Regions from separate parts of the Homo sapiens genome. Here all the other regions are linked to region 4. The links come from fine-mapping of genetic effects on gene expression. A gene starts in region 4. Each other region holds a variant in brackets. All regions are shown on one strand. Distances are from middle to middle. Region 1 overlaps SARDH (sarcosine dehydrogenase). Region 2 overlaps DBH (dopamine beta-hydroxylase). Region 3 overlaps SARDH (sarcosine dehydrogenase). Region 4 holds the start of SARDH (sarcosine dehydrogenase).

The links.
Region 1: its variant is fine-mapped to the expression of SARDH in whole blood (INTERVAL, PIP above 0.99).
Region 2: its variant is fine-mapped to the expression of SARDH in caudate (GTEx, PIP 0.93).
Region 3: its variant is fine-mapped to the expression of SARDH in blood mononuclear cells (TOPMed, PIP 0.95).

The regions. Positions count from the first base shown.
Region 1 is chr9:133,700,293-133,708,351 of GRCh38, reverse strand. It overlaps SARDH (sarcosine dehydrogenase), which reads left to right. Exons shown (of 21, transcript NM_001134707.2): 11 at 1-65; 12 at 3,321-3,404; 13 at 5,323-5,436. Among named protein-coding and RNA genes, the nearest start is that of SARDH, 34 kb to the left of the region's middle. The variant C/T (reference allele first, on the strand shown) is at 3,470.
Region 2 is chr9:133,659,125-133,667,183 of GRCh38, reverse strand. It overlaps DBH (dopamine beta-hydroxylase), which reads right to left. Exons shown (of 12, transcript NM_000787.4): 12 at 7,855-8,059. SARDH (sarcosine dehydrogenase) reads left to right here. Exons shown (of 21, transcript NM_001134707.2): 20 at 314-449; 21 at 3,170-3,624. The coding sequence ends at 3,295. Among named protein-coding and RNA genes, the nearest start is that of DBH-AS1, 5.7 kb to the right of the region's middle. The variant G/A (reference allele first, on the strand shown) is at 3,585.
Region 3 is chr9:133,678,797-133,686,855 of GRCh38, reverse strand. SARDH (sarcosine dehydrogenase) reads left to right here. Exons shown (of 21, transcript NM_001134707.2): 17 at 1,570-1,663. Among named protein-coding and RNA genes, the nearest start is that of DBH-AS1, 25 kb to the right of the region's middle. RefSeq lists an enhancer at 948-1,448. The variant A/G (reference allele first, on the strand shown) is at 3,179.
Region 4 is chr9:133,733,529-133,741,587 of GRCh38, reverse strand. SARDH (sarcosine dehydrogenase) reads left to right here and starts at 3,236. Exons shown (of 21, transcript NM_001134707.2): 1 at 3,236-3,334; 2 at 7,385-7,745. The coding sequence starts at 7,415.

The DNA of each region.
Region 1 (8,059 bases), 33 kb after region 4:
CCGTCGTCTTCCCCCACGATGAGCCGCTGGCCGGGCGCAACATGAGGAGAGACCCGCTGCACGAGGTAACGCCCCTACAGCTCCTGCTGGGGACTGGCAGCGAGGGTCTGGGACGTCCTCAGGGCAGCGGAGTGACAGAAATGCAAGGTGTACCCCAACCGCAGGTCAGGTGCGGTGACAAGGTGTCTGTCATTCCCCAGGTAGTAACCCGGCACCCCCATGTGTTGGGCACAGTGCTCAGGGCCAAGAACATTAGGGAATAAAGTGGAAATGGCTCCCTCCCACCCGGGGGCTTCTGTTGTAGTGGAGGAGCAGGAACGCACACCCAGGAACCGCCCCCTGCCAACTGCTGGCAGCAGCGCCAACAGGGCAGGGGTCCTGGGGGCGGGGTCTTGGTGGGTGTATGCAGCCACGTATTGGGAGAGCAGCCAGAACACGGCGTACATTGGAGAGGGGCTCCTGCCTGTAGAGCCTGCTGCGGAGGCTCTTCTGCCCTGGTGAGCTTCGACTCACCCATTCAGTGAAACCCACTGTCAGGTGCCCCTTTCTCAGGTCTGCCCCTGTGCCCTCCCCTGGTCCCCCAAAGACAAAGGAGCTCCTTCTCTGCGCTCCCAGCCCCGTCTCCATTCCTTCCCCCTCTCCCTGGCCATCTCGTGCTGGACGCTTTGCTTTCTGGGGAACAGGGGCTATGTCCTAGGCACTCTGGTTCCTGAGCATTGAGGTGCTCGGGGGATGTTTGTTGAACAGATGGATGGGCGGGGAGGCAAGAGGGAGGCTCAGGGAGCAGGTGGCGTTTAAACTGAAGAAGGGGCCTCCCTCACCTGAGATTCCAGTGTCTGGCCCCAAGAGAGATCCTGGTATTAGCTGTACCTCCTGGGGAGAGGCCCAGAGTGGTCACAGGGCTGGCTCCCAGACTGCCCTGGCCCTTTGGCCTGGCTTGGTGGACCAGCTATGATCTCAGGCCACACATGGCCCTGGGGTCTCCCTAGCATGCCCCCGGGCCTGTAATCAGTAATCACGCCCTTGCCAGTCCTGACAGTTCAGAAGCCTCCCTGGGTGAATGCAGGGTTTGCTCCTCTCGCAGTCAGCTCAGACGCATTCCTCAGAACTGAGCAGCTCTACCGAAGAAACTTGGCAAGGGCTGAAGCACGCCCCTGCCCCCCAGGGAAATCTTGGTTCACCCACGCCTCGACTTCCCTTCCTAGTTAGCAGCCTTCTTGCGACACTTGACAGCCGCTTAAGTTTGTTCTCTTTCTTTCTTTTATAAAGAGGGGAGCCTGCCCTCTTTTAATGGGCTCTTGAGATGAACAGTTTGCCTCCTTAGAAAGGTGGCCCATGGGATGTCCCCATGGTTCACTGAGAGGTGGGTGGATTTTGTGCCCTCGATTGCCATCCCCTCAGAATCCCAGGCAGGCAGGGAGGACATGTCCATGTCATTGATGAATGCTGTGGCCTTGGGCGTGCCTCCTCCTTCTTGGGGCCTCGGGGGTGGAGGGGAGGGCAAGTGCTGTTGGGACAGACCCTCAGCGGGCCATCTGGAACCAGATGCTGCCCCCGAGGCCCTCTCAGCCCTGCGCTCGGGGCCTCGTTCCAGTCAGAGGGGGTGGCCCCTGGGTAGGGCCCTTCCAAACCCGAGAGTGGGTTTTCTTTTTTTTCCCAAACCAAATTTATTTTTAAAGAAACCTCCCACTCTGTTTCTCTAGTGTGTTCATTACATTCGTTGTTGTGATTAAGTAGGCAGATCTTAAAATGAGCTATTTTAACTGCTCTAAAGTGTACAATTCAGTGGCATTAAGTGCCTTTGCAGTGCTGTGCAACCGTTCCCATTACCCAGTTCCAGAACATTCTCATCACCCCACAGGGAAACACCATCCCCAGTAAACAGCCCTTCCTCATCTCCTCCCACCAGCCTTGGCAACCACTAAGCTGTTTCGGTCTCTATGGATTTGCCTGTTCAGGTCACTTCATATGCTGGAATCATCCAATACATGACCTTTTGTGTCTGGCTTCATTCCTGTAGCATGTTTTCAAGGTTCATCCTGTGATAAAATGTGTCCAAATTTCGTTGCTTTTTATGGCTGAATAATATTCCATGGTGTATGCAGACCATGCTTTGTTGATCCACTCATCAGCTGAGGGCCACGGGGGTTCTCTCCCCTGGTTAGTGGTTGCGCATAGAGCTCAGTGAACATGCGTGAACGGAATTTGTTTACAACCCCGCTCTCAGTTCTCTTGTGCATACTTGGGAGTGGAATTGCTGGGTCGTATGGTGCATCTTTCTGCTAGGGCAGCCACAGCAAAAGGCCACAAGTGGAGAGGTTTCAGCAGAACTTTTTTTTCCCCACATTTCTGGAGACTGGGAGGTCCAAGATCAAGGTGTCAGACGATGGGTTCCTGGAGAGGGCTCTCCTGGCTTGTAGTCGGCCACCTTCTCACTGTCCTCATGCAGCGGGGAGAGGGCCCTGGCGTCGCTTCCTCCTCCTATAAGGGCTCCAGCCGTATGGGATTAGGACCCACCCTGATGACCTCATTTAACCTAAAGATCCCATCTCCAAATAGAGTCACGTCAGGGTCAGGGCTTTGACATACGAATTTATGTGGGGATGTGATTCCGTCCATAGCAGATGGTAATTCTACAGATGGGGGTTCTCAGGGCCAAGGCAGATCAGGGCAGGTGGTAATTCTACAGATGATGGTTATCGGGGCCAGGGCAGATGGGGCAGGTGCTATTCTGTAGCTGGGGGTTCTCAGGATGAGGGCAGATAGGGGAAGGTGATAATTCTACAGATGGGGTTCTCAGGGTGAGGGCAGATGGGGCAGGCGGTAAGTCTATAGATGGGATTCCTGGGGCAAGAGCAGATCAGGGCAGGTGGTAATTCTATAGATGGGGGTTCTCAGGGTGAGGGCAGATGGGGCAGGTGGTAATTAATTCTATAGATGGGGGTTCTCAGGGTGAGGGCAGATGGGGCAGGTGGTAATTAATTCTATAGATGGGGGTTCTCAGGGTGAGGGCAGATGGGGCAGGTGGTAATTCTATAGATGGGGGTTCTCAGGGTGAGGGCAGATGGGGCAGGTGGTAATTCTATAGATGGGGGTTCTCAGGGTGAGGGCAGATGGGGCAGGTGGTAATTCTACACATAGGGGTTCTCAGGGTGAGGCAGTGAGGGTAGCTGCAAACACTGGGCTGGAGGCCTGGTTCCAAGAGTCAGGGCCTCCTTGCTCTCCGCACCCTTGGGTGTAAAGTGGCGGATGTGGCTCTCTGCCCTGCGCAGGGGTATCAGGCCATGCGTGACAGATGCCTGTTCCCCACTCCTGCTCAGGAACTCCTTGGACAAGGCTGCGTGTTCCAGGAGCGGCATGGCTGGGAGCGACCGGGATGGTTTCATCCCCGAGGCCCAGCTCCGGTGAGTAGTGCCTGCTGGGCTGTGCTGCTGGGAGGCCCTGCCCTGACAACCCCCTTGCCCCTCCA[C/T]GTGCCCCGTCCTTGCCCCTCCGTGTGCCCCGCCTCCCCAGGTGGTTCCACTGTCGTGATCAGTTATTCTGCACACGGGAAGCCGAGCCCTGCCGACCTGCCCCCAAGGCTCAGTGCATTCTTTGTGCCGTTCACGCAATTCCCACTCCTCGTCCTCCCCACTACCCGTCCGCTGTGGCCAGGCCTTCCATGGCCTAAGTGGGAAGGGCTGTAGGCAGAGCAGAAGGGGTGTCCTGCGGTGGGGAGACAGCAAGAAGACTCCCCCAGGTTGCAGGAGGAATGGAGCGTCTCCTAATTCTGTGCATCTATTTTTGGCCACTCCGACTGTTGGTTTATGTCCGTAGGAGGGCAGGCACTGGGCAGGTTGATGCACCCAGGGTGCTCAGTTTCCCAGTGGAGGTTTCACAGTGGCCTGGACTCTGGGCGTCCTCTGGGGACTCCCAGGGACCTGGGTCCTCAGTGAGAGGAACAAAGGCAGTCCTGCTGTGAAACCTGGGACCCAGACCCTCGGGAGCAGGGGACGCGAGGCCTTAAGGCCAGCTGAGGGGTAGCATTTGATCCAGATTTACAGAAATCGAAATCCCCTTCCCGGGGCTGCGTCTCACCAGTCCCCTCTGGTGCACCCACCTTCCATCCCCATGGCAACCCACAGCCCAGGCCAGGCTCCAGAGCTCCAGGGCATCGGGAGGGGAGATGAGAGCCAGAGCTGGCTAACGGGGCCACGGCTCTGGGGTCAGAGCCTTGCAGGTCATCGTCTCTTCTCCTGCTGGCCCCTAGGGACATGCCGTCCTCATGAACCCTGCGGGGAGGAGGGGTCTGGGCAGACCCTGTCTTGAAGTGCAACCCACTGTGTTCCAGTCAGATCTGGCCCTGGAAGCCCCTCTCCCCTGTCCCTGGGCGAGGAGAGGAGAGTCAGGAACACACCCCAGGTCCCAAGATGGGCGGATTTTGCACCCCCACCCGGGAGCCAGCCTGGGTGTCCAGGACACCTTGGCAGGGCTGCAGTGGGTGGGATGTCCCTGCTGGGGAGGGGGGTACTCCATGCAGAGATGCCAGCAAAGCCTGACTCCCTTACAACCTCACACTGGCTCCCACTTGTGTGTGAAGAGGAGGTGAGGCTTGGGCGGACGGGGCTGGCAGCCCTGGGAGGTTAAGAATTGCCCACACCTGCATTCACAGCTGTGCCGTGTCGGCAGTTAGGAGGGCAGGTGGCGGGGTGGGGGGTTGTCTGCAGGAGCAGCGGCCAGGGAGGGGCATGGGGCTGTGGGGCTGTGGGGTGTCTGATGGGGGCAGATCCCAGGGAGGCCAAGGCAGTGGCAGAAAAGCTGGACTCTGGAGCCCACGCACCTGCCTGGCTTCGTGCCACTGCCAGGTCCAGGACTTGTCTGTGCCCTTGGGCGAGATATAACTTCTCTGCGCCTCACTTTCCTCATCTGTAGAAAGGGGCACACCTGGTAGGAGTGTAAGACGCTTCCCGCAGGGGCTGGCCCAGAGCAGGAGCTGGGCCTGGGATTGCCGTGGCTCCAGGGAGCAGCCCTGGCTGAGGTCCTGGGTAACCACCTCTCCCTGTCGTTCCCCACCTTGGGTGCATCCAGCTCCTCCTCCAGCCTCCTGGGCCCTGGCTGGGCTCTCAGACCCACCAGGCAACCCTGCGGCCTCCTTTGTGCCTCTGTTTTGCCTGGACCTCATGGGGGCCCCCTGCCCGCGTCCACAACACACGGGCACTCAGTGCAGGGCTCTCCGAGGGCAGGGCCAGGCCTGACCCCATCACAGCCTCAGCGGGACCCCGCTCTGGGGAGGGAAGCGGGGAGGGGCCAAAGAGGCAGGCTGAGGACCACGTCTTTTCTTCCCAGGTCCTCGAGTACGACTACTACGGGGCTTACGGGAGCCGCGCGCACGAGGACTACGCCTACCGCAGGCTGCTGGCAGACGAGTACACCTTCGCCTTCCCGCCCCACCACGACACGGTGCGTAGCTGGGGTCCACCGTGGGGGTCCGTCCTTCTGCCTGTCCCTCAGATAAGCCATTGCGCCGGCCCTCGGCTGGCCCTGCAGGGGCTCCCCTCCCCCAGGAGTCTCTTCGGGCTCTGCATTCACGCTTTTTTCGGCTGACTCCATTTTGAGGAGGAATCATGCGTTTTCCTCTCCCCCTCCTCCCTCTGTGCCGAGATTTTGCCAGCAGCCAGGCCTGAGCGGAAGTGGTGCTGCTGGGGATGGGGTGAGGTGGGGGCGGAGGCAACGGGCTGGGGCCCGGTGGGGCTGCACCGCTCTGAGCCTCCGCCTCCCGCTCTCCGGAGCTGCGCCGAGGCTGGCATGAGACGTGGTGGGGGAAGGGGGTCCTCCCTCCTGGAAGCCAGCGCAGAGTAGATCCAGGACAAGGGGGCCGCAGGCTCCTGGGCATCAGGCCCCGTATGGGCCCCTCCAAGGGACAAGCAGAGGGAACCAGAGCCGGGAGGGCCGTGGCCTGGAGCCTGCTTGCTGTTCCTCTGGCTCCAAAGTGGGCAGGCGAGGCTGCTCACACGGGGCAGCTGGCAGCCCGTCGCCCCTGCCTGGGGACCTGGCTCCCACGTGCAGGGGGTGGAGGTGAGGAGTCTTGGGGGTCTTCTCCCCCGCAGCAGCCTGCACCACACAGGGGCGTTCTCCCCCGCAGCTGTCCGGGAAGGAGCGAGGCCAGCGTCTGCCCTGGCCTGCCCAGTCGTGTTGTAAAGTGCTCACAGGTGGAGCACAGCTGTTGTCCCCGTGCCACCCCAGGGAGACGCGTGACACCTCACTGCGAATCTGACATAGGAGCAGAGCCAAGGCCTGAGCCCAGAGTCTCAGAGCCCAGGGACAGCTTAGGAGGCATCCACGAGGGGGTTCCTTCCTGGGGCCTCTAGGCCAGTCGCAAGTCCGGCTTGGGTAGGGTCTGACCCTGCGGTCGTCCGTTGCCTTGAAGGGCCCCGCTTGGGTTCATGCTGTGCTGTCAGTGCCTTGAGACTCTTCATGGTCTTTGAGCAAGGTCCCCACTGGGTCCCGCACTGGGTTCTGTAGCCAGTTCTGAAGGGAATAAACCGTTCATTTCCACCATCTCCCCGAAAGCTTGCTCTAGTGGTGGAACATCTGTTCAAGGCGTCGGAAGAGGGGGCTCCTGCAGGAAGGAGGAGGCGTGTGTGTCATGAAGCGCCGCAGCAGCAGGGCCGGCTCAGTGCCCGAGTCCCTTGTCGCTGCCTCCCAGGGAGTGCTCGGGGCTCCGTCTGGCACCTCCGCACCCACAGCTTCTAAAGCCTGTGGGACTCTGGCCCTCGAGGATGTGGGAGCTCGGGGGAGATGCCAACTTGGCTTTGTGGCTTCATCCGGCCTCCGCAAACGCGCCTGAAGCCGTCCTAAAGCACGAAACACGTGCTTGTTCTTGGCGCTGGCAGCTTCCCCGGCCTGCTAGAGGAGCCCAGCGCGGGAGGCTGCTGAGGGTTTTGGTTGGCAGCCCCGGTGGCATCAGCAAAGGTACAGCAGAAACCGACAAAGGGGAGCCCTGTCCTGAAGGACAGTGATGCCTGGTGGGGCTGGAGAAGCCATGGAGAGCTCAGGAGGCAGATGGTCCCTGTGGTGTGCTGGTAACAGCTTAACAACCAGCTCTCTGGGGCAGAGGGGAGGAAGCTGGCTCTGTAGCACCGGCCAATTTCCCTGATGTAAATGCTTTCTCCATGGCTGATTTCAATCCAGTCCGCCAATGAGGCATCACTGAATGTGGAGCTGGGCAGGGATCTGCCTGACCAGCTGTCAGGGTCAGTGCACCCCTGCACAGCCTGGCTGGACCATAACTCTGCCACTGCCTGGCTGTGCCACCATCCCTGGCCTCCCTGAGTATGTGAGGGGTAATATGAGTTCCCTTGTGGAAACTCAAAGGGAGTTTGGGAGGAGATGAAACAGCTTCCCGACACACGGCAGCTGTTCAGGAAGCTGTGGTTGTTGCTGTCATGATTATTTTTTTCCTGTAACAACAATGAGGTGGGCACCTCTGCTCAGCAGTGGGGGGCATGTTGAGCCCTGAAGGGGAAGACCAAGTAGAACATACAGTGAAGAATAGAAGATTCTCAAAACCTCACCCAGGCATTTGTAAACCTGGGGAAGGAAATAGGGAGTGATGTTGTTTATGTGTGTGTGTGTGTGCGCGTGCGTGTGTGTGTGTGTGCTTTGAAAACAGCTTTATTGAGATCTAATTCGCATACTATATGATTTATTCATTTAAAAGGTACAACTCAGTGTTTTTTAGTGAGTTCACGGGATTGTACAACCATCACCATGATCTAGTTTTAGAATGTTTTCATCTCCCAGCAAAAGATACCCCACACCTCACCCTATCCCCAGCCCAGGGCAACCCTACTCTACTTTCTCTCTCTGTAGATATATCTAGTTTGGACGTTTCACGTAAGTAGAATCATAAAAGATGTGTGCTTTTGTGATCAGCTTCTTCCACTTAGCGTGATATTCTCAAGGCACATTCATGTCGTAGTGTGTGTGTCAGCACTTCATTCCTTTTTTTTTTAATTTTTCAAATTTTTATTTATTTATTTATTTTTTGAGATGGGGTCTTGCTCTGTTGCCCCAGGCTGGA
Region 2 (8,059 bases), 74 kb after region 4:
CAACAATGGAAGGAAATCGGAAGCAGGGGCCCTCCCAAATATACGGGGCTCGCTTCTGGAAACAGCAAAGTCCACTCCTGGTTTTGATGTTTTCTATTCATCCCTTTTACTCACTCGAAGCCCGAGCCCTGCTGTCCAGGCCAGGTGCTGGGCTGGCTCTGGGGACCAGCGTAGTCCTAGTAGGCCAGCCCTATCTGCCTGGAGCCACGGTTGGGTGTGCATCATGCAGCCCCCCATTCTCCTCCAGGCCGCTGTGGACGCGTCCCCACCCTGCGGTTTCTGGGGCCCCAGCTTTCTCTACTGCTTCTTCCAGCAAAGTACCCATGTTTGGCCTGGAGGCCATCTGGAGGAACGGCCAAGTGGTGGGCCATGTCCGGAGGGCTGACTTTGGGTTCGCCATCGACAAGACCATCGCCTACGGTTACATCCATGACCCCAGCGGTGGGCCGGTGAGTCCCCTTCTCTGGCCCTGCTAAGGCAGATGCCGATCCCTCACCAGCTCCAAACCAGCTCCCTGCACTGCACCCTGAGTGTGCCGGGCATAGGGAGGAGGCACGGGTGTGGTCCAGAAGAGGAGGAGGGAAGAGAAAGGAGGGAGGAGGGAAGAGGGGGAGGAAGGAAGGAGGAGAAGGAGGGGGAAGGAAAAAGGGGAGAGAGGAAGGAGGAGGAGGAGGGAGAGGGAGGAGGGAGGGAGAAGGAGAAGGGGGAGGAAGAGGCCTCAGCAGGTGGAGGACTCCCCAGCTGTGCCTGGGCAGAGCCAAAGCTGCTCTCTGTTTTCTTTCTGGAAGAATCCGACTTTGGTGATTCCAGGCTTTTTTTGGTTAGAAGGAGGTGCCAGCCAGCCAGGCTGATACCTTCCAGCTCCTCACACCAGAGACCCAAACCTCAGGCCACCCACAGCCCACCCTTTGCCTGGGGTGCAGGGGTGGCCCCCAGGGTGACCGACTAGAGACTCAGAGACCCATGTTCCTATCCTCTCTTTCCTCACCCCCGACACCCCTGACCCCAGGCAACCCCACCCCCTCCAGGTGACCCTGACCCCTGGCTGCAGGAGGCAGGAACAGGCTGGAAAGAGCAGGCACTGCCCCCAGGAGCAAGTCCCAGGACAGCTCTGGGTGGCCAGGGGTGGTGGGGCAGGGGGTGGGCAGCCTCCCCAGAAGGGGAAGGGGTGGTCTCTACCTCCACCTCCTTTTCCCATCTTTCTGGCACTGCAAGTAGAGGTGCCGGTGAGGAGGGTCGTGTCTCTCCATGGGAGCCGATCTGACGTTTGGCCTAAGCCCTAAGTGAGGCCGGGAGGTGCTGGCCTGGCTCCAGAGCCTTCCAGCCTGAGCCCCTGATGGACACGTAGAGGGAATTGGGGAGGGAGCGAGCACTTGGGAGAAGCCATGAGGAGGGGTAGGCTGGAGACGGAGCAGCCTTAGCAAGAGCTGCAGAACATGCGCAGGCCCAGCTCGCAGGCCCAATGGGGAGGGGACACCGCCAGGCCTCGGGCAAGACCATGGTCCTGTGGAGCTGTGGGGAAGTGGCAGCCCATGGGGCTGAGTCCGGCGGTGGAGCTGGGAGGCTGGGGACACACTTGATGCCACTAGCCTTTGGATCTGCCTTTTACTTGCTTTGTGACCTTGGATAAGGATCCTCTCTTGGAGCCTCAGTTTCCTCATTTATAAAATGTGGACACTCACCTACCATGCAGGGCTGTCATACAGGCCACTGCACAGAGTGAGTCTTAATATGTGGGGATTGTGATGGCATGGCTCCCACGGTGGGCAGGGCCTCCTGACACAGCCCTGGGGCCATGGTCCTGGGGGCCACAGCCCTGGGGCCCAGCCAAACCGGAGTTTATGGGCTCCATGCCAGGGTGGGCTGGGGAGTGGAGGCTCCTTTGCCATTTCTTCAAAGAACAGTAATGCTCGCCTTTCTCCGGAGTCAGGGATGGGTCCATAACCAACGTGACCAGGGAAGCCGAGGTTCCGAGGTTAAACGGCATCCAGACAGGCAGCCGGGGAACCAGTCGATGCACCCAGAGCGGCCGGTGCACGTCTCCTGCCCCCTCCATCAGGGCTGTCCAGAGCATTTGCACCATGGAAATGGGCAAATGCTACAGTCACACCCACCTCACCCCAGAGCTGGTTGTTAAACATTTTCTAGCACCCAAGTGGGGTAACGGAGGTTTCTGCCTAAGATAGGGAAACCTGCTCATTGATGGGAAAGGCTCCGAGATGGGGAAGGCGTTTCTGCCTCGTAGGTATCTGTTAGCAAGGCCAGATGCCCGCTTTGAGTTGTGCATGCCCGTGGACATCTGAAGGCCACCAGCTCTCCATGCTGCCTGCCTGCGGGGGGCAGCTCAGAGCTCTCAGCCCTGCAGGTGCACACATGGCTCAGAAGCACCACTCCTAAAGCTCCTGTCGCAGAAAAAGCTTGGTTTGTTTTTTATTTTTTTCATCCAGTCCTGAGCTGCTAGGAACAAGAAGGAGCCCTCTGACTCCCAGAGCGGAGCCCGAGACTCCCTCCTGTGGCCCTGACCTTGGGTTTAATTGCTGTAAAGGAAGAACAGCTTCCCTGAGTGGCCTAGCCTGCCCTCCTCATAGCAGCTGCAGCAAAAGTGCCAGGCGTCACCAGCTGTGCCAGGCTGGAGGTGACACCCTCCTCCTGCCTAAGAGCACCTGCACCTGGGGCTGACTGGCTCCCGAGCGCTTGCTGGGGAGCCCGAGCCAGGGTGTGGGATGGGGAGCATGCAGAGGCCAAGCTGTCTAGAAGGCTGTTCCAGCCGCCCCTGCCCCGAGGGATTCGAGCCGGATTGGCCCCCAGCCTCGGCGCTGCTCTGGCCGCTGTGCTTGCCCGGGTCCGGGGAAGCCACCGTGTTGCTGCTGTTTCCCAGGCATCTGGAATTGCTGGGGTGGGAGGTGTGTTGTCCGGTGGAAGTCATATTGGCTGCCAGACCTTGGCTTTGCCGGACCCCAGATGCCCATGTCCAACTCAAGATCACATGGACACGAACTGCACCTGCTCTGGGGCAATGCCTGGGTTCAGAAAGGAGTCCCTGGCACAGGGATGAGTTTGCCCACAGGGCAGGTAGCAAGACCAAGACCCCCTCCTCCAGAGAAGCAGGCAGACGTGAGCCCTGTACCTACCAACAGAGAGTGATCCTCATCCCCACCTCTGCTCCTAGGTCTCGCTGGACTTTGTGAAGAGCGGGGACTATGCCCTGGAGAGAATGGGGGTGACCTATGGTGCCCAGGCTCACCTGAAGTCGCCCTTCGACCCCAACAACAAGAGGGTGAAGGGAATCTACTGAGGGCTCAGACCACATGCCCCATCCCATGCTGTCCATCCATTCTCACAGGTCCCAAATGGCCCTGGGTCCCAGGACCCTGGACCCAGCCAGAACTTGTGCCCTCCCTGTCCTTAGCCTAGGCCTAGTCCTGCGAAAACCCCCAAACCAGATACGGACAGAGACCAAGATGGCCCATCCTGTGGTCACTGACTGGAAGGCAGTCTCTAATCCACCCCAATCCTCCCAGAAAGCAAACCTGTAAGTGTCTTGGGCTCAGGGACCATGGCTTGTAGCCCTTTCCAAGCTTCTA[G/A]AAGGTGCTTAGTAAATACTTGATAAGCCCCACGTGAAAACAGCGAAGCAAATAGGCTTCATCTTTTACTCCAGGCTTGACTGATCGGTGGCGGGCTTCCCTGGGGCACTTGGCTGAAGAGCATGAGGCTGTGTCTGGGTCAGGAAAGAGAGGTGATCGACTGGCATTGTCTGCCACAGCGCACATGGAGGCCTGGGACCAAGGCCATTCTTCAGGATGGTGCCTCTCGGCTCTCAGGTCGGAACAGGAGCTGGAAAGCTCTTCTTACCTTGCTCGACCTCCCTGTTCTTCAGGTGGCAAAGCCTCCTGAGAGTCGGCAGCCCGGGAACACAGAGGAGCCGAAGCAGGGAGCGGGCGGGGCCTCAGATTGGTGCCCTCCTCACCCACACAGAAGTGCCAGCTCCTGCCTCAGTTTCCCCTTGAGCCCCTCGCTCACCAGGCCCAGGCAGGAGGGACGTGCTGCTGGGTAAGAGTCTGGTGGAGTCCCCCTTTCTAGGTGACCTTTGTCTTTGCTGTTGATTTGGACGCGGTTCCTGCCCATGCCCTCCTCCTTGTCTGGCCCTTGCAGGAGGACCCTCTCTTAGGCTCTGCCCTGCACGCTGCCTTGAGATGGGGTGGCTCCTCTGCCCACCTTCTCTTCCCCCTGATAACTGCCTGTGTGTCAGAAGCAGCTCTGCCTCTCCTGCCTGGGAGGGGTGTGCATCTCTGTCCATCCCACGTGCTCAGTCCCCTCCCTTGTCCCCCCGAGCCCAGGTTCAGATCAGGCCCGTCAGAGCGGCACTGCGCAGTCTTGCCAGGCATGCCCTGCAATCTGGGAAGAGCGGGAGGCAGATGCTTGAGGGTATCGTGGAGCCGGGGCCCCACAGAGCCACACACACAGCAAACAGCGATCTGGGGGCAGCAGTCCTGGCAGGCCCCAGCTGCCACTGGACGCTCCCAGGCCACGCGGCCCACTGTGGACTGAGCTCGAACAAAGCTGTGGGCAGACGTTTGGGTTACAGATGGCTGTGAAAAGTGGGTTTGGCCCCCTGAGTCTGGGGAGGGGGCTGCGGCTGGAGACCAGGGTGGGGGCTGTTGGCTTTCACACGCTTCAGGCTGAAGGAACACCTGCAGCCTCCCCTTGCTCACAGGCGGGCCTGGCTTCTGGATGAGACAGCTTTGTGGGAGCCAGGGGAGGAGAGGAGGGGAGCCGGCTCCCCAGATGGCCTGGCCTGCTTCCTCCGGGTCTGCGGTTTGGCCATAGACCCCTGGATTGGGCCGGTGACCACATTCATCTCACGGCCCATCCCTGGGGGAAGGCTGAGGATGAGGGGAGGTCAGAGCCCGGGTTCCGCTCCAAATTGTTTCTCGTGGCTGCAGCTGGGGAATGCACGCAACGGCACCACCCTGTCCCGAGGAGAGAGAACCTGGCTGCGCTCCCTGTCCCGAGGAGAGAGAACCCAGCACCCCTCCCTGTCCCCTGTGTGCTTCCCCCGCCCCTGTGGAGAGAGAACCTGGCCCCTCGGGGAGGGCACTGGGCATTGATGTGAGCGCAGCCTCCACAACTCACCTCCCAAGCTCATCACCTGCGGGCTCCATCCCTGCGCTGCCAGAGGTCCTGGCCCCGCCATGGCTCCCAAGTGCACCGCCCGGGGACCACATCACAAAAGACCCACCTTCCCAGACCCCGAGCCAGGTCTTCCAGACCTCAACTTTAAAAACACCGTTTCGTAGCTATTTTTAAATTTTTTTTCTGGAAATATTGATACCATGACGCTCACTGTGGCTGAGTACTGCCTCTCAGGAATTCTGAGCAAACTGTTTTGAAAGTGCCTACACTGGCCGGGCGCAGTGACTGACGCCTGTAATCCCAGCACTTTGGGAGGCCGAGGGGGGCGGATCACCTGAGGTTGGGAGTTTGAGACCAGCCTGACCAATATGGTGAAGTCTCATCTCTACTAAAAACACAAAATTAGCTGGGCGTGGTGGCACACGCCTGTAATCCCAGATACTTGGGAGGCTGAGGTGGGAGAATTGCTTGAACCCAGGAAGCGGAGGTTGTGGTGAGCCGAGATTATGCCATTGCACTCCAGCCTGGGCAACAAGAGGGAAACTCTGTCTCAAAAACAACAAAAAAAAGAAAGTGCCTACATCGTCACCGGCAGAGCGCTATACCACAGTGTGCAGTGAGACAGCCTTGGGCCATGTGAAAAGTTGGGGGTATGAATGGGACGCAGAAAGGTTCCATTTTGTTTTTTTTTGTTGTTGTTGTTTTTTTTTTGAGACAGGGTTTTACTCTGTTGCCCAAGCTGGAGTACAGTGGTGTGATCTCAGCTCACTACAACCTCCACCTCCCAGGTCAAGCAATTCTCCCACCTCAGCCTCCCAAATAGCTAGGATTACAAACGCGCACCACCACAGCCTGGCTAATTTTTGTATTTTTAGTAGAGACGGGGTTTCACCATATTGGCCAGGCTGGTCTCGAACTACCGACCTCAGGTGATCCGCCCGCCTCAGTCTCCCAAAATGCTGGGATTACAGGCGTGAGCCACCGCGCCCAGCCCTAATTATTGTATTTTTTGTAGAGACAGGATTTCACTATGTTGCCCAGGCTGGTCTTGAACTCCTGGGCTCAAGTGATCCTCGCATCTCAGCCTCCCAAAGTGCTGGGATTACAGGCATGAGCCACAGCACCCGACCTTGTATCATTTTAATTAATTTAAAATTAATCGTAAGTAGCCACATGAGGCTAGCAGCCACCAGAAAGCACAGCCCTGGTGTGCTCTGGGACCCAGTCGGGCAGGCACCCCTATGCTGGCTGGAGCCTGGGGTCGCCCCACTTCTCTCAACACTGATGGGCATGAGCATTCCTCACCCCAGGGCTCTGAGCACCTCACAGATGGGGGGTTGTGCCACCCTAGCAGTCCCTGCCCCCTGGGAGGCTGGGGAACCCTCTCCTCGGTGGGCAGATAGGGAGACCCAAGCCTAGGGAAGGAAAGTAACTAACTCAGGGTCACACAGCAGGGGCAGGAATAGCAACCTGGGCTGCTGGACTCACACCCCAATCATTCGGAAGGTGGGCGAGCCCAGAGTCCCTTTGGCTTGGGGCATGTAGGTCATTTTCAGGTAACAAAGCACTTCCCCTAAGCCTCTAAATAAGGAACTTATTTTAGATAAAATCCCCCACAAGGGTCCTGGGGAAATTCCTGTTTCCTAAGTAAGCAGAGGTTGAGCATTCAGACACTGGAGTCAGACCTGGGGACACTTCGAGCTCCCCGGCTTACTCTGGGTGACCTTGGCACCTAACTTTAGGTCTCTGAGCCTCAGTTTCCTCCTCCATCAATGGAAACAGAAACTACATGGCTTCACGAGATTGCCACGGCTGTGCATAGCCTCAGTGTGGGGCAAGTGGCAACTCTCAGCAACCACGGGGTTACGCTTATCTGGGTGTAGGAGGTGCGGGTACTGCTGGAGCGGGGTAGGGGGGACACGGCTGCTGTCTCTGCAAGAGGAAGAGGATAACCAGCCTGAGAGCAAGAGTGTGAGTGGGGGGTGAGGTGGGGGTGGGGTTGTCGCTGTGGCAGGTTCCAGAGCTGGCTAGGATTCCCAATCACTGCCGCTCTTGGGCCCCAGGTGAGGTACTTATCTGGGAGTCTCAGTTTCCCTGCCCGAGATCGGCAGGCTACAAGTGCCCCCCAGGTGTTTGGGCAGGACCCTGGGACCCTTCTCTGGGCTGGCAATTGGGTGTGATCGCGGGAAGAGGCTTCTTGGGCCTGCTCCGTGTCTACTGTCACCTAGGCTGTAAAGATGACAGAGGGCCGGAGTGGCTCTCCAGGCTGGGGCCTGGCATTTCACAGCGCTAGCGCCGTGACTTATGGACCACAAGAAGCTGTGATTTATACAACGTGAGGCAGAGCTCCTGGGCTCGTGACTTCCCTTCTGTGATGAAGTGAAGTGCCTTGCAGAAGCAGCAGCCGCTTAGCTGATGCGAGGGGACTCCGAGGCCCATCCATCTCCCTCTCTCCCCATGAGGCTGGGCAGCGTTTTGCTGAAGTGGCTGAACACAAGTGCATCTGTTACTGTCTCCAGAAACCATCAAAGAGCTGAACTTGTCCCTGAGAGGCAGCTCAGAGGGCAGGAAGGGGAGACCCACCCAGGCCAGCTGAGGCAGCTTCAGGACGCTCAGGGGGAAGCACTTGGTACCACGCCTGGCACAGGGAGGAGGCTCAGGAGCAAGCTTCTCTCTCCTGGAGCGACGGCCCGGAGTGCAAACATACCCACCTCCAGTGGGTGCCAGCCCAAGTGTGAGCTTTATTGGCTCATTAGCCCGCACGGCATCAGCCTGGTTTTACAGATGAGAAAAGTGAGGGTCAGGAATGTGAAATGGCCCGCCCAAGGCACACTCCCTAAGTGGCAGAACCACGCGGAAAGCACAGCCCTGACTCCACCCCGGTCTGTTCAGCGCTGGCCCCACCGGCAGAGAAGCAAGCTGGTGC
Region 3 (8,059 bases), 55 kb after region 4:
CACGTGGGTGCTGAGTGGTTACATAAGGGTCTTGGCCAACTGTACCACAGCTGAGCACCTCAGGCTGACGTGGGTGGCGGCTCCCAGCACTGTGACGATTGGGATTAGGGTCAGCAGTACTTCTGGACAGCCCACCCTGCAGCCTCAACACCTGCTGGGATCCCAGAGGGACAGAAGTGGGGGGGCGTCTCCTAGCAATGGGGGCCTCACCCTGCTGTGCCAAGCCAGGGTGTTCACAGTCAGTTCTATTTACTGAGAGCCTGCTCTGTGCCAGGCACATTGGGATAGGGGGATGCTGTTGGCACGGAGCTCCTGGGGGTGGATGCATTGGGGGTGGGTACAACCAATGTGAGAGACACCCTGGCAGGAGACTGTGGGATCTTGGACAACGAGTACCTGCCCAAGACCTAGGGAGTCAGGGAGGGCTTCCTGGGGGAGGTGACAGCTGAGCCAAGAGCTGAAGGATGACAAAGGGTTAAGTGGTGACAGGGGAAGGGGTGAGAATGCGAAGGGGCACAAGAGGGCTAGGCCTGGAGGTGGGCACGGTGCCCAGGAGGTGAGGGCTTCCTGGGAGACCATGGGTGTTGGCTCCAGTGAGGTCTCCGGTACTTGCGCAAGTGTGAGAGTAGATGTGGTGCTGGGTACCACGGAGCAGGGAAAGTGGGGAGCGAATCCCCACCCTCGCAGAGCTTAAAAGCAGGGGTGGACCCAGCAAGTCTGTGCAAACTGTCCAGTATGGACTGAGTGTCCAGTGCTCAGGAACATTCCCGGGCCCTCATAGCACTGTGGCACTCAGGTGCAGCCCTGCCCTCGGTAGGTGACAGTCCCCTAGGAGGTTGAAATGGCTCTTAGCACCTGCTGGGTGCTAAGCCCAGCTCTCTACCTCCTCCAAGTCTGCAGCCTGAGCGTCTCACACCCATGTCAGGCAGAGGACTTTGGGGCCGAGGTGCCCAGTTGGAGGGTTAGGTCAGGGAACAGAGCGGGGTGGTGTCTGGGAAGAGCACTTTCTGCAGTGGGCTGGGAGGAGGCCGGAATCTGCTCCAATCCGGCTCTGCCTTGGGCAAGTTACTCTACTCTTCTGTACAGCACTGAGGCCACCATAGCCAGCTCCTCTCTCGGGCCGTGGCTACCAAAGCAGCAGCTGAGGCCCCTCTGGCCTCTGAAGAGTTGGAAACCTGGAGAGGCCTGGGGATGTGGATTGTGGATTGTGGACCTGGTCCAGATGCTCTGTTCCTCCTGGCCTGTGGGCTTCAAGGGCATTCTATGGTTAGATAACCACTCTGGCCTCACTTCCCCATCTAAGAATCGCGAGTCCCGTTAGAGCTATCTCCAAGTCTGGCCTCCCCCAGGGGTCCTGCTAGCCCTAGCGTTACCCCGTTGGAAGGTGGCTGTCTTATGTATATTTGGAACGTACATCTGTCTTGGTGTATTTTTATTAATCCATGTTTATTGTCATCTGTCTCATGAGGACAGGGACTTATCCCACTCATGGCAGGTCCCCGGGGCCTTTCCTGCCCAGGCCCCACCCGTGAGCACTTGCTGACTGAGCGACTTTGCTCTTGCCTGCAGCCGAGCCATTTTGCAGGAGGTGCTGGACGCAGACCTGAGCAACGAGGCCTTCCCGTTCTCCACCCACAAGCTACTGAGAGCCGCAGGGCACCTGGTAGGTTCCAGCTGGCCACGTCCTCTGGGTCGTGGGTGGCAGCATGGTGTGAGGGGTGCGCCGGGGGATCTGGGGGCTGGGGGCTCTCGGGCAGGTTCCTTTGCCTCCCTGGGCCTCGGTCCCCAACTGTGAAGGGGGGACAGTGGGACCAGGCGGCCCTCCTACAGGCTGTTGGGAGCTTGGAGAGGTCATGTGGATCAAAGTCACAGCGTCTTCCATCCCTCCTCGGTGCCTGGTGCATGCCAGGGACTCAGTCCCAGGGAAGGTGGCCTTGGCCTCACTGCCTGCATCGCCACCTATTGTATCCCCTCCTGAAAGGCGCGGGGCAGCCCTCCCGAGGCCAAGTGACCTCCTGGAAACGGGAGGGCCGAGCTCTGCTGAGCAGTAGCTGGCTCCGGAGAGCTCCGTGTGGCAGCCTCCCAGCTGCCATTGTGGGCGTGGGAGGAGGGGCTGCTGGGGTGGGAGCACAGCCAGTCCCCAAACAGCACCCCACATGTCCCCCACCAACTCTAGAAAGCCTGTATCCTGGGGGCCAGAGCCCGTCCCTTCTGAGATGGTGGTAGTGTCCGGAGCCAGCACTCCATGGGACCTGGCCCCAGGCAGGAGGCTCCCTCAGAGACCAGGATCGGGGCCCAGATTCTAGTTCTGGGCCAGCACGACCCTCTTCTGGGCTTTGTTTCCTTGTTGGAAAACAGGCATCTTGGCATCTGCTTTGACTTCTCGAGGCTGAGATGAGGATGGTAAACACAGCAGCCCCTGTTTGCCGAGGGCTTCCTGTGTGCCAGACACTGTTCCGAGAACATCACAGCACACTTTCCCATGTAATCCTCGCCATAGTGCGGGCGGCTCTGTTACAGGGTCTCCCAACCTCAGCACTACTGACGTTTGGAGGAGATCCTCTCTGCTGTGAGGGCCCTCCTGTGTGACACAGGTGTGTGGCCGCCTCCCTGGCTGCCGCCCACTAGGTGCCAGTGGCACCCACCGTCGTGACAGCCACAAGTGTGTTCAGACATGGCCAAGGGTCCGCTGGGGGCAGGATCGCCCATTGAGAACCTCAGTGCATGACCACCCTGCTTGTTTGCAGGGCTGTAAGCCATGTAGTGGCAGCGGGGGCCGGGCCTCCAGAGCCCTCCAGCGCTCATGCTGGAGGAGATGTCGCCCTGCATGACGGATGTTACCCAGATGGAGCTCAGAGAGGCTGGATGGGCCAGGCTGCTCAGGGCCGCCCGGCTAAAGAAACCCAGAAAGCCCCCGATATGTGTCAGTGACACGGATGTGGCCTTCAGGAGGGGGTGGGCGGGTGCACGGCCGCGTTTGGAGGCAGCTCCCTGTCTCTCCTTCCTGTATGTTCGTCTGGGGTTTGGGTGGGGAAATGCTAAGGAAGGTTGGGGAGGAGCGAGGTCCTGGCCTGCAGAGGGACTGGAGGTCCTGGGGGACAAATCTGGGTTCTGTTAGCAGATAAACAATCTGGCGATGACTGTCAGGGAGGAGGCGGCCAGAAACTAGGGAGATCCC[A/G]GCGGCTCTGCTCTCACCTCCCCTCTCCAGAGGCTGCACAGGGGCAGGAAGCAGGGCCGGCTGTGTCTAGCTTGCTTCCTGCCTCTGTGGTGCAAAGCTGCCTGCTGGGACCAGAGAGGGTGGGCACTCAGAGAGAGCAGCACAGCTGGATCCAGGCCACACGGCCTTCAGATGGCCCGACTCCAGCTCCAGCAGGCCGGGGTCCACGCAGCATCCAGCTTTGTCTGCAGCTGGGTTCTGGTTTGCAGAAGGGGAGGGGGGCTGCGGGTTCTCCCACCTTGCTGAGGCTTGGCATAGGTGCTGCTTCTGTCTGGTTTGGCTACAGGACGGGGAGACGACCAGGTGGGAACACGTCCCCTCCCATTTGAGGCCCAGCAGCCTTGCCCCCACCCGCACGGCCACTCCAGCAAGCTGCTGGGACTTGTTCTCAGACAGGCGGCTCCAGCTGCCTCCCCTCTCCTGGGGCTGGCCCTTTCCTGGCCCTGGCAGCCTCCCCAAGCCTAGGCAGTGGCTGCCTGGGTCAGCCTCTACCTGTGTGGCCTAGGAGCCAGGCCAGGCCAGGTGCTTGCTGAGCTGACCCAAAGGCTCTGCTTCCGGGATGACATCCCCCAGAGGAACAGGCCAGGCCAAACACAGCGTGGGGGGTGCAGGGGGTGCAGGGGCCGCCTCTCCCCACAGTCTCCTGCTCATTGGTGTAAAATCACTGGTGTTGTAAAAAGCACATCACGGCTGCATAAAATACTGCTCATTGCTCGGTTTCCAACCATCACTGCGCATGGGTTTCAGCACAGGGGCTGAGTGCAGACCTCGCTTCTAGCAGTTTCCAACCATCACTGCGCGTGGGTTTCAGCACAGGGGCTGAGTGCAGACCTCGCTTCTAGCAGTTTCCAACCATCACTGCGCGTGGGTTTCAGCACAGGGGCTGAGTGCAGACCTCGCTTCTAGCAGTTTCCAACCATCACTGCGCATGGGTTTCAGCACAGGGGCTGAGTGCAGACCTCGCTTCTAGCAGTTTCCAACCATCACTGCGCGTGGGTTTCAGCACAGGGGCTGAGTGCAGACCTCACTTCTACCAAGCCCACTTTGGGCACGACCCTTGCCCCCTCAGAACAAGGATGCTGGGTCTGTGGGCAGGTCTCGTGAGCTGCGGCACGAAGCTCATCTGGCTGGGACATGGTGGTCAGCGGCATCTCAGAGGACCGTTGGGGACATTCATAGCCTGCCAATGAGTTAGCGAAAACCCCTCTAATCCCATCCCAGAGAAACCAGGGTTGACAGTTGAGTGTGTTGCCCGCCATCTTCTTTCCGTCATCTGTGACTATCTGTGGATTTTAAAATGTAATCAGGGCATCCCATGCAGTCTGTACACACTGCTTTATTCTCCGAATGTCGTGACTGTTCCCCTGTTCCTTTGAACGTTCCCCGAGAACCACTTGGAACGCCCTCAGCTGCGTCTCCAGTGCCCTGCTCATGTGTTTCACACCGGGTCCACCTCTCTGCTTTGGAAGTGGCCCCGGGAGGAACTTCCCTTGAACACCGTCCTCCCAGTAGATGCTGACTGTTGGTCTGAGAGAGGGTAGAGCTGGGCCCACCAGGTCGGAGGTATGTGCGGTTCATGGTCCCGGGTCACTCTGTGGTGTGTTCTTCTCTGTCCTTCCGTATTTCTGCGCCCCTCGCTTGCCCAGTGCTACCCTAGGTCTCAGGCGGAGTGGGAGAGAAGCACAATGCTTTCTAGGCTGGGGTCCCTGCGTGTGGGATGGGGGGGAGGGGAAACACAGGGGAGGTGGGACATGAGCGTCAACTGGCGTGCGCGATCGTGGGGACACAGGAAATAGGCGGCGGGGAGGTGCTACACGCATAAGGAGGCCCAGCTGCTGGGAAACACGCCGCGCACCGGCCGTGGCAGTTATCCATGGTGTACCTCCCAGCACCGTCAGCTCACGTAGGGCCACTGGGACTCTCAGTCAAGCACTAGTGTTTTACTAAACTTAACGATCCGTTCCCAGTGCTGTGCTTCTCGTCCTCTCCCTCACTAGCGCTCGAGAGACTCTGGAGTGAACTCTGGACATGCTGCCTGGGAGCCTGCTGGGTGCTGGATTGGGGTCCCAGGATGGAAGATGTGGCTCCTTCCCTCGATGGGCTCAGACCCCGAGTGAGGTTGGGGCCCAGGAAGGGACCTGCAGCCACAGCCCAGCCTGTACTGGAAAGAGGTCCTAGGCAGGGTGAGGGGTGACCCCAGGCCAACGGGTTCTCATGGAACCGAGAGTCCCGCAAAGATGGCCACAGAGAACTGAGTGTTGGCAAGAACCAGACAGGGTGGGGCAAGGCCCCGAGTGTCTCGACCTCTTGGCTAGAAAAAAAGTGTGGCCCGTGTTGGGGGGCTCTGCCCTGGGACTGACCCCAGGGGCCTGTGGACGAGCCGGGAGCCCACATCAGCTGCCCCTGCTCTACCCACTACCCACCAGCATTCTCCCCATCCCTGTGGGCCCCATCCTGACACCTCCCAGCCCCCGTGGCAGGACCAGGGCGGCAGATGTCCCCGGTGCTGAGGGCAGGCTTCCATCCCCACACAGCCCCAGCCAGGAGCTCGTCTCTGCCGACAGCCAGTGGCCCAGGGCCCCACTCCTTAGGAAGACAGACGACCTTAGCGCACAGATTTACTGTCACCTGGGCTGAGTGGCCGGCTCTGTGGGGTCATTCCCATGCTCATGTTCTTGGAGTCCGTGGGGTCCATCGGGGACAGACTGGGGGTGAGCTGGGGCTAACCATCTTCACCTAGAGACCCTGATGCCCAGCACTGAGCGCAGCCCCACTGGCTTCTCGTCCCTCTCCCTCCTTGTCCTCCCGGCAGCTCTCTGGAGTGGCCAGTGTGGGCCTGGCGGCCAGGTCTGCGTGTGTCTGGAGTGGCCAGTGTGGGCCTGGCGGCCAGGTCTGCGTGTGTCTGGAGGACGACTGTGGCCCTCAGGAGCTTGAAGTTGCTGGGTGGCCGGTGGGTCCAGATCCCATGAGATGAGGCCGGGGACTCGAGGAGCGTGTGGAGGACGGAGCGGCCAGGAATCCTGTCCTCAGTGACCTCTGCCTCCTCTTGAGGGCCCTGGGGAGGTGTGGGCCAGGAGAGCAGAGGTTCTGGGCCCTTAGTGTCAATGTTACAGTTTTTGCTGACCTGGGAGGCTGTCCCTCAAAGTGGCCAGGGCCACGCGCTCCCAGGTGGCCCCAGCCTGGGACACAGTGCCCTCCCCATTTCCTGGCCAGCAAGACGGGTGGGGATACAGCCACTGGCCACGGCCAGCTCCCCCTGTAGGGGGCCTCACAGGCAGGTGGGAGATGGGAGTTGAGTCAGCCACAGACACTGGGGGGTTTGGGACCAAAGCATCCATGTTACCCAAGGCTCGGTGGAGCTCAGGCCAGAAGCCTGGCTTCCCATCCTGCCCGGTCCTTCTGCGGGTCGCCTCTCTGGGCCTCAGTGTCCCCACCTGTAGCACGGAGTCTAGCACAATGTCTAAAATTCTTTCCGGGCCTTTCCATAAGTCTGTCCAGACACTCTGGATTCTCTGAATCCAGGGAGAATTTCATATTCTCCTAAATAATATCTTGTGCTGGCTTAAAAATGTGTTGATGACATATCCCTCAACGTGAAGAAACGCTGGGCTGGAGCGTGGGCCTGAGCCAGGTATTTATAGGCGATCAGTTGGGTTCCAGCCAACCAGATGCAGGCGAGGAATGCGTGTGCCTGCGCAGTCAGCGGAACCTCTGGGTTGAAAGCAGTTGTGAGGGCCGATGAGGACAAGGGCCAGAGCTGCAGACCCGGGCCCCGGGTGCGAGAGCGGGCGCCTGCCGCTGCCCAAAGACCCTCCTCACCACCAGACGAATTGGGCGCGATTCCCAGCTGAGCACTGCTGCTGTTGTGCAGTGATTGTTCTCCGAGAGGCTGGGATCTGACCCAGGCTGCCACGATCCCTGGACTGCTAGAGGAGGAAGCAGGGTGGGGAGAAGTTATTGTCCGCTCAGCAGCCAGCAGACCAGCTGTCCTTGCTCCCCAAATATCTTGCCTCGAGGCCAGCAAGATTCCCCGTGGGTCAGTGCTCTCCCGGCGTGTCTCCCAGAGCTCCGCTCGGCCAGACACGGTGTTCCCAGGGCCCCTGCCGAGGACGGGCCCCGCCGCGAAGCAGCATGCTGGGCTGGGAGCACTCCGTGGGGCACGGTGATCAAGTGATTTTCTCTGAAAATTAATTTCAGCTCAAAAGGAAATTGAATCTCTTTTCCTGACAGCGAGAAGTCCTAGTCGCGGCGCTGTTAGGATTTGATTAGCTCAGGATGGAGCAGTCCTGCACCCACACACGTTAGATAACTATGACATGCCAGTCAGAGACCAGCTGAGTTCCAGCCACTGCCTAAACACTCGCTTTACAGAACCCGTGCAGATTTGCTGAGGCCTGAGACAGATACCCGATATCATGGGCAGGTTCCCTGATGCAGCACAGAGAGACTGGTGGCCGCAGGCTGGGGCACCGTGTTCCCTGTCACGGGTCGAGCTGTTGCCACGATAGTGTGAAGGGCCTGGGCCCCAAGGGGAAGTTGGAGCGAGGGTGTTTGTGGAGTGGGTGGTGGGAAGCTTCGACCCCCACCCGGGTTTGCTGCTTCTGTCTGGGGCAAGTGACCTCAGGCAGAACTGGGTGCAGAGGGCTCTGAGCTGGGGGCCTTGGAGACTTCAGGGGCAATCGGTTCCAGGTTCTCATCTTGCCCTTGTAAGGAAAGAAAAGGTGTGAGCCCTCCCCTCACCCATTATCAGGGGCATGGGAGACAGCCCTGTAACAAAAGACTGGTTCACAAGAGAAAAGCACACCAGATAGATTTAATCAGAGCTTTATGTGACATGGGAGC
Region 4 (8,059 bases):
TAGTTTTCTTTTTCAGGTTCTTATTGAAAAAATAAAATCTTGGCAGTGTAAATTCAGCCCTTGAAAATTGTTCTGGAAATTTCCCTGGCCCATGAATCACCTGGGTCTGGCACCTGTTGGCTGTGTTCTCCCTCAGTTTTCCCATCTCCACGATGGGTAGCAGTTGTTGCTGTCTCATTTGAGATGACACGTGTGAAGCCTTTAGCACGCTGCCTGACTCCCAGGAGGCCCTCAGAGGTGACTGGGGCACTGCCTTCCTCCTGGTCAGTGGTGATGTTGGCTCTTATAGTTTGGGTTGGGATGCTGTTGCTCATGTCCTCTTTCACAGGGCTGCACGCAGAGCTCGGTGGAGGAGCCTCCTCCCCCAACGCCTCCGCTTCTTCCTCCCTGGACTTCTGCCCCGTCAGAGGGCAGCCTGCAGGCACCTCTCTCTGTCCTGGAAGCCTGGCCAGCAAGTCGGGGCCAAGGGCTGGTGGGGGCCTGCAGAGAGGGCCAGCCTGAGCCAGAGGAAGAGTCTTGGGGTTGGCTCAGGTATGTCCAGGCCATGAGGGCAGAGGAACAAGTCTACCACAGTCCCCACTGGAGCGGTGGCGGGGAGGCTGGGGAGGGCAGTGAACCTGGAGGCAGCCCCTCACTCCTGAATGTAGAGTCAACTGTGACTTTGATTTGCACCACAGTTTTCTTCAGAGTGCACTAAACATAGAGTCATACTCATTTTACGAGACCAGCATTACCCTGATACCAAAGCCAGATAACATTACAAGAAAGAAAATTATAGACCGATATCCTTGATGAACATAGATGCAACAATCCTCTCAAAATATTAGCAAACCAGCTGGGCGCGGTGGCTCACACCTGTAATCCTAACGCTTTGGGAGGACGAGGTGGGGGGATCACTTAAGGTCAGGAGTTCGAAACCAGCTTGGCCATTCATGGTCAAACCCCGTCTCTACTAAAAATACAAAAAATTAGCTGGGCACGGTGGTGCGTGCCTGTAATCCCAGCTACTTGGGAGGCTGAGGGAGGAGAATCGCTTGAACCGGGAAGGCGGAGGTTGCAGTGAGCCGAGATCGTGCCACCGCACTCCAGCATGGGCGACAGAGCAAGACTCCGTCTAAAAAAAAAAAAAATTAGCAAACCAAATTCAACAGCACATTAAAAAGATCATGCACCGTGATCAAGTAGATTTTATCCCTGGTGGGGTGACTTCTTTGAGGTGGCAGCCCCTCTGTTGGTGTGATCTAGAGCAGGACTGAAGGAAATTTACTCAGGGAAATTTACAAGGCTTCTGTGAAACTGACATGGCAGGGCTTCCAGCCTCCTGTTCCAAGATGGGAAAACTAAGTCTCAGCAAAGGGAGAGGTGATAAGACCAGCCCGAGATCGTACAGGACCCTGTCTTGGCCTCCTTGTCCGGAGCCTGGCCTCTCCAGAGCTGTGACTACTAGTCCCTGGGGGGAGACAGCCTTTCCACCTCTCCCAGACCGGAGCTGGGTGCTAACAGGCCCTGCCGGATGAAAATCCTACGATACTAACAGACAGCTAACAGGCCGGGACCGGCCCCCAGCCACCACCCCTTGTCCAAAGTGCAGGTTCATTGTGCTGCCCTCTTGGCTTGTAACAGTTTTGCAACAGTTGCAACTTGTCTTTGAGTGCAGGGACAGGAGAAGTGTGGGCTACCCGGCCACTGCCCTGGAGCTGTGGTGACTGCTGCGTTTTTCTCCCATGCACTTGCACGTCCAGGACTCCTGGGAGAACTTGGGCCACACTCCTTCCTTGCCCTCTTGAGCTCATTCGTCACCCTGTTGGGTGAGCACAGCCCTAGCTCAGGCCACTGGGCAAGCCACACCATCCAAAGAGGAGGTCCTCTGCCCCAGGACCCCCACACCACCCCAGGTAAGCCTCAAACTGGCGGGGCCAGCTTTCCACTGGGCAGCCAGGGGCCTAAGCCAGTGGGCCCTTTGCCTTTGAGGCAGGGACTGAGAATGGTGTCAGCACGTGGTCAGGCCCAGAGCCCAGGCCCCCTCCTCTAAGAGGTCCTCCTGGATTCCCTGCTGGAAGGAAGCCAGCCTTGTGGTGTCGTGTCTCTCCCTGGATCTGTCTGCTTCGTGGACCCTGAGCCCCTCGAGGGCAGGGGCTGGGTCTTAGATGTCACTATAGGTTTCCCAGCAGTGCTTTGTACACATTGGGCATTCAGTAAATGTAGAGGATAGACAAGCTGGCAACAAGACAGTCGGACATCCTCGGTGTGAATAAGAACACAATGATTTGATTGGTATTAATTACAGCAGTTTACTATACGATCGCTTCCGGTATTGGCAGCTGGCATCATTACAATATTAACAGACTGCCATTGAAATGCCCCGTCTTTGATCCAGCGCGAGGAGGAGATGTGACTTTCCATCAGCACCTGTTCTGATTCTTTGGGCATCCAGAGGTGTATTCTTTCTGGGTTTCCTCCACACCCCTCCTCTGGGTGTCTACTTCTGTCTGGGAAGGGGTAACTTGCCCCAGCCCAGAGTCAGGCTGCAGCATCCGGTCTGCCTCCTCCACCAGCTTGCTGTGTGGCCCCCTCCCTGGGCACTGCTGTCCCCAACAGTCAATGGAGGCTGGAATCCCTGCCCTGGGGGCTACGTGCTGTGCAGTAGCCAGTGGCTTGGGGGCATCTCCCCAAACACCAGAGGGGTCTGGGAGCTCGGGAAAGCAGGACGCAGACAGACCAGGAGACCCTGTCCCTGGGAAGCTGACCCAGGCCTTCTCACTCGCCTCTGAAGGCAGTGAGCATCCTGTCCCTGGGGGTGAGCAAACTGGGGCATGTGCTGAGATGACCTCACCAAAGGAGCCTCCCTGCAGTGGACGGGCCCCTGGCCCAAGCTGCTGCTGACCCCACCTTTCCTGCCCACCCTGCCTGTGCATAGCTCCTTCTGGGCGCGGGGAGCTCGGGCGGCTCCAGCAGGCAGGTGGTGCCTGGGTCTACTGCAGCAACCCTGAGGCGCCTGTTTCAGAGACGAGGAAATGAGGGTTGGAGCGGAAGGGTGACTGCCAGGTCGCCTACGGGTAATGGGGCATGGGGTTCACAACCCTGCTCTGCCGCCCTCAGAGGGAGCTGCCCACAGGGCTGGCCTAGAAGCCCCAACTAAGCTGGCCTAGAAGCCGCAGTGGTGGGCGGTACGCTCCGCCCAGATCCTGGGCGGAGACATGGGGCTGGCAGCGAGGGTGGGGGGCGGGGGAGGCCTGGAGTTCCGGCCAGGCCACTGCTTGGGAAGCAAGAAGGTGAAGGCACCTCTGCTGGGCCAAGCACTCTTAGGGCCGAGGGGCACTGCAGCTGACAAGAGGTACTTGGAGGTACACCCCCAGGGAGGGACGAGGCTGGGGCCTCCCCTATGTGGGCGGGGCTGGGCCTGGTCAGATCTGGCTGGGATCTCCCTCTGCCTCTGGCTGCAGGGACCATCCAGCTGCATGAGCAGGACCAGGGTTCACCATATGGGCAGCTGCCTCCCCGCCCCCTGCCGCTCCTCCCCACAAGTCTGCCTACCCTCACCAGGCGAAGGTGCCAGGCGCTCTCCTCGCTTGACCCCCACCACCCCCTGAGCCTGGGAGGAGGAGGGCGTTCCTGGGTCCTCTGCTTTGCAGTGAGGTTAAGTTGTTGCTCGAGGCCCCAGTCCTGTGACAAAACCCCCACCCATCTGTCTGATCCCAAGCCCAGGGCTGTCCTCAGCCCTCACTCCTGGGAAGCTGACTCAGGTACGAGACAGAGTTGGAGGGGGCAAGAGAGTGGGTTAATGTGGAGGCAGCTGTTTCCAGGGAGGTGGCAGGCAGGAGGGGCTCTGGGCTGTCCCCGCTGGGGCCGCTGCCAGCCCCCAGTCTGACAGTCAGAAGAGCCCTGACTGACCAGGCAGGTGGTGAAGGGGCACGTGGCAGCCTCCGGCGCCAGCAGCTGTCGCTTTTTGGGCACAGTCGGAAGGAGGAGGGAGGCTTTTGCCCACAGCTGACCAGGTGTGCTGTGCCATGCGGCACCGTGGTGGGTGGTGGGTGGTGGGGTGGGGGTGTTCAGCCTTGGAGGGCCTTCCTCGGTGCCACTCAAGCTGGCTTTCCCCTGGTGGGGCACCACTTTTGGGGGCTCCTGGAAGACTGTGGACCTTCAAGGACTGAAGGTATGTACAGACACATGCAGGAGGCATGCCTCCTTGTCCGGGGCCACCTCTGCAGGCAGGAGCCAGGCGGGCTGACACACTGAGGGCTGAGAGGCTGAGGACAAGCTCCAACACCTCCTCACTCCCCTACGCCGCTGCAATCAGACTCCCTGCTCCCTCCCTTGGGATGGGGCACTGGGGCAGGAGATGGGGGGCAGCCCTGACCAGCCTGAGAGCTGGGATCCCCCTCACATCCCCCACTGTGCCTAGGACAGGGTTCTGGGCTTCGTCAGGGCTTGGGCAGTGCCCACAGTTCAGGTGGGACAGAGTGTGGCAGTGGGTCCTGAGTCCCCCTGGGATGGTCAGAAGAGGGGGCAGGAGAGAGTCCCTGGCACTGCCACATGGAGGCCCTATGACCCTGGTCACCTCAGGGAGCCTCTCCGTGTGTCAGACTCCCCCGCTGTGAAGTAGAGACATTATCATGTGTCTATAGGTGTTCAATGAGAGTGAACGAACGTGCATAGCTATGGTCCACTCTTGAAAAAGGATGCTGACTTTCTTAGATAATTATATCAGTCATTCATACTGACGTAGGTGGCACAGCACTTCACATCTTGGATCACAGCCACATCCCTTTCACTTTTCCTGCAGATCCCAGAAAAGGGCAGTGGAGGTCCACACTGGGCAGGACACCACCCCACCCTTCCATTGAGGGCTGTTGTGAGACCTCCGTTCTTAACTTCTTAGTTTAAAGAATTTAGGCTGGGCACAGTGGCTCATGCCTGTAATCCCAGCACTTTGGGAGGCCGAGGCAGGCGGATCACCTGAGGTCAGGAGTTCGAGACCAGCCTGGCCAACATGGTGAAACCCTGTCTCTACTAAAGATACAAAAATTAGCCAGGCATGGTGGCATGCACCTATAATCCCAGCTACTCGAGAGGCTGAGGTGGGAGAATCGCTTGAACCCAGGAGGCAGAGGTTGCAGTGAGCCAAGATCATGCCACTGCACTCCAGCCTGGAAGACAGAGTGGGACTCTTTCTCAAAACAAACAAACAAACAAACAACAACAACAACAACAAAACAGAATTTAAACATGAGACACACAGCAAAAGAGCTGCAACATAGAGCAATTTATTGCAAAAGAAAAAGAACATTTTGAAAGTTAGGTGCGGATGCACCCTGGGAGAGAGAGGATTCCAGGCGGGGGGCTGCTCCTGAGTGTGAGGCAGCATTGATGATTGTTGGAGAAACCCCCTTTCAGGGAGTCTTCCACAATTATTCATAAGTGGGTGGAAAGAGAGGAAGAGGTTACTAGGCAGCATGTGATGGCTGGTCCTCTGGGTGCACATGCGGTAGCTGTACATGTTTGTTCATACGTCACATGTCTCTTTCGCATCTTTTTTTTTTTTTTTTTGAGACGGAGTTTCACTCTTGTTGCCCAGGCTGGAGTGCAATGGCACAATCTCGGCTTACTGCAGCCTCCACCTCCCGGGTTTAAGCAAGTCTCCTGTCTCAGCCTCCAGAGTAGCTGGGATTACAGGCATGCACCACCACCCCCGGCTAATGTATTTTTAGTAGAGATGGGGTTTCTCCATGTTGGTCAGGCTGGTCTCAAACTCCTGACCTCAGGTGATCCGCCTGCCTCGGCCTCCCCAAGTGCTGGGATTACAGGCATGAGCCACAGAGCCCGGCCTCATTAGCATCTTAAAATCTCCACCGAGGGGTGTGTTTTTTTACTATTAGAATGAGCAAAGGGTCAGTTTGAGGACAGGTAAAATCAATGTGCACATGCCCTCTCCAGGGGAAAGGCCCTACTGCAGACAGCTTTGCTTGAACGAGCTCAGTTAACACGAGCTCAGTTACAGTGCAAACGTGGAGGCTGATTGTGTGGATTGCAGTCACCACGGTTGCTGCGTCCCCAGGACATGGTGACTCCTTTGACTGCCTGTCCTGCCTCGCCTGCACCCAAGGAGACATCCGTCTTCATCAGCGCCTTCTCTCCTGAGAAGGAGGGCTCCCTCTTGCATTCTCATTGTTATTGGATTTTTCTGGCTGGGCAGATCTGGGAGGGTTTCCTGAAGGAGGAGGGAGTCGGGGTGGGTCAGCTGGGAAGGAGCAGAGGGGAGGAAGGCCTGTTAACCCGGCTTCTGAGCCCCTACTCTGCAATCCCAGGTGGCCCCAAGGGAGCAGAGCCGGGACACCACATCCTTCATCAGCTTCCGCCTTAGTCCCACCGAGCTTTGGGGCTGATGAGGGGGCAACCCCTCTTGTCTGGGTTTGGGAGGGGCCTGCCCAGGAGGAGGTGCTGGCTCCAGGCTTGGGGGTTGGGTGCCCCGTCTCGAGGCTGCCTGCCGATACCCTGCGGCCACTGCTGTAGCATCCACGATGCCTCTCCCTCCTCCTGGCTCTCTGTCTGGGAGCGCAAGTGTCTCCATCACTCAACACAACCCCCTCCCTGCCCTGCTGTGCCACTACCACCGCCTTCTCTGGGCACTCCTGCCTCCCAGGTCCCATCCCCACCCCGCAGGACCTGGGGTCTGCCCCAGCACAGACCTGTGGGGCAGCAGGGCTGCTTGGCCCCTCAGGAGCATCTTGAGCTCCGAAAGGGCTCTCAAGGCTGGCGGGACGGCCCCCGCCCAGCCCCAGCCTCTCGCTGTCTGTGATCTGGGGGTGAGTGTCCCTGAGACCGGAGCCCCTCCTTTCCAGCTATTGGTCCTCTGTCCTCAGTCCCCTCCCCATCCTCCCTGCCCGGCCTCACGGGGCAGCCCACTTTCCTCAGGTCTCACTTTGGATCTCTGCCAGCCACGCCACCCACTCTTCTCTACCTCCCCTTGTGGCCCCGACCCCCACTTCTACCCAGAGCTTGGCGCTCCCTGTCTTTTCTGTGGGCTGGCAGAGACCTATCCTCACCAAGGTTGCTCCCGGGCACTGACAGAGCCTGCTGCATACCAGGCCCTTAATACATACACACAGAATGAATGAATGAATGAATGAGTGAATGAATGAATGAATGAGTGAATGAATGAGTGAATGAATGAATGAATGAGTGAATGAATGAGTGAATGAATGAATGAGTGAATGAATGAATGAGTGAATGAATGAATGAATGAGTGAATGAATGAATGCCATGGGGAAGTGGCAAGAGGAAGGCCCTGGGAGGTAACACCATAGGGCCCTTATTTCCCTGGGTACTCAGCACAGCCCCCAGCGTGTCCCCTCTGCACCCCACCCAGCTCTGATTCTCTCCCCAGCTCCCTGTTTCGCTGAGGCCTGGAGCCCCCATGGCCTCACTGAGCCGAGCCCTACGTGTGGCTGCTGCCCACCCTCGCCAGAGCCCTACCCGGGGCATGGGGCCATGCAACCTGTCCAGCGCAGCTGGCCCCACAGCCGAGAAGAGTGTGCCATATCAGCGGACCCTGAAGGAGGGACAGGGCACCTCGGTGGTGGCCCAAGGCCCAAGCCGGCCCCTGCCCAGCACGGCCAACGTGGTGGTCATTGGTGGAGGCAGCTTGGGCTGCCAGACCCTGTACCACCTGGCCAAGCTGGGCATGAGTGGGGCGGTGCTGCTGGAGCGGGAGCGGCTGACCTCCGGGACCACCTGGCACACGGCAGGTAGGGACCGGGGGCCAGGTAGGGGCAGGGAAGGATAGGACATAGCGAGGGGCCACAGCCCATTGCTAGCTGGGACAGTTCTTGGTTCACAACAACCAGCCTGGGGAAGAGACCCTGGGGAAGGGTGCATGGCCAGTTTGCAGGTGGGCGGAGCTGGGGGCACTGCTTGCCCTCCCAGTCGCTGAAGAGCTGTGGTGGGAGGAGGGAGCAGATGCTGCTTGTGTGGCCTGGAGAGTGAAGCTGGGGCCAGAGCTGGAAACTCCAGGCAGCTGTCCAGAGGGCAGAAGCCCCTTTCCTGGACAGAGCCACCAGGA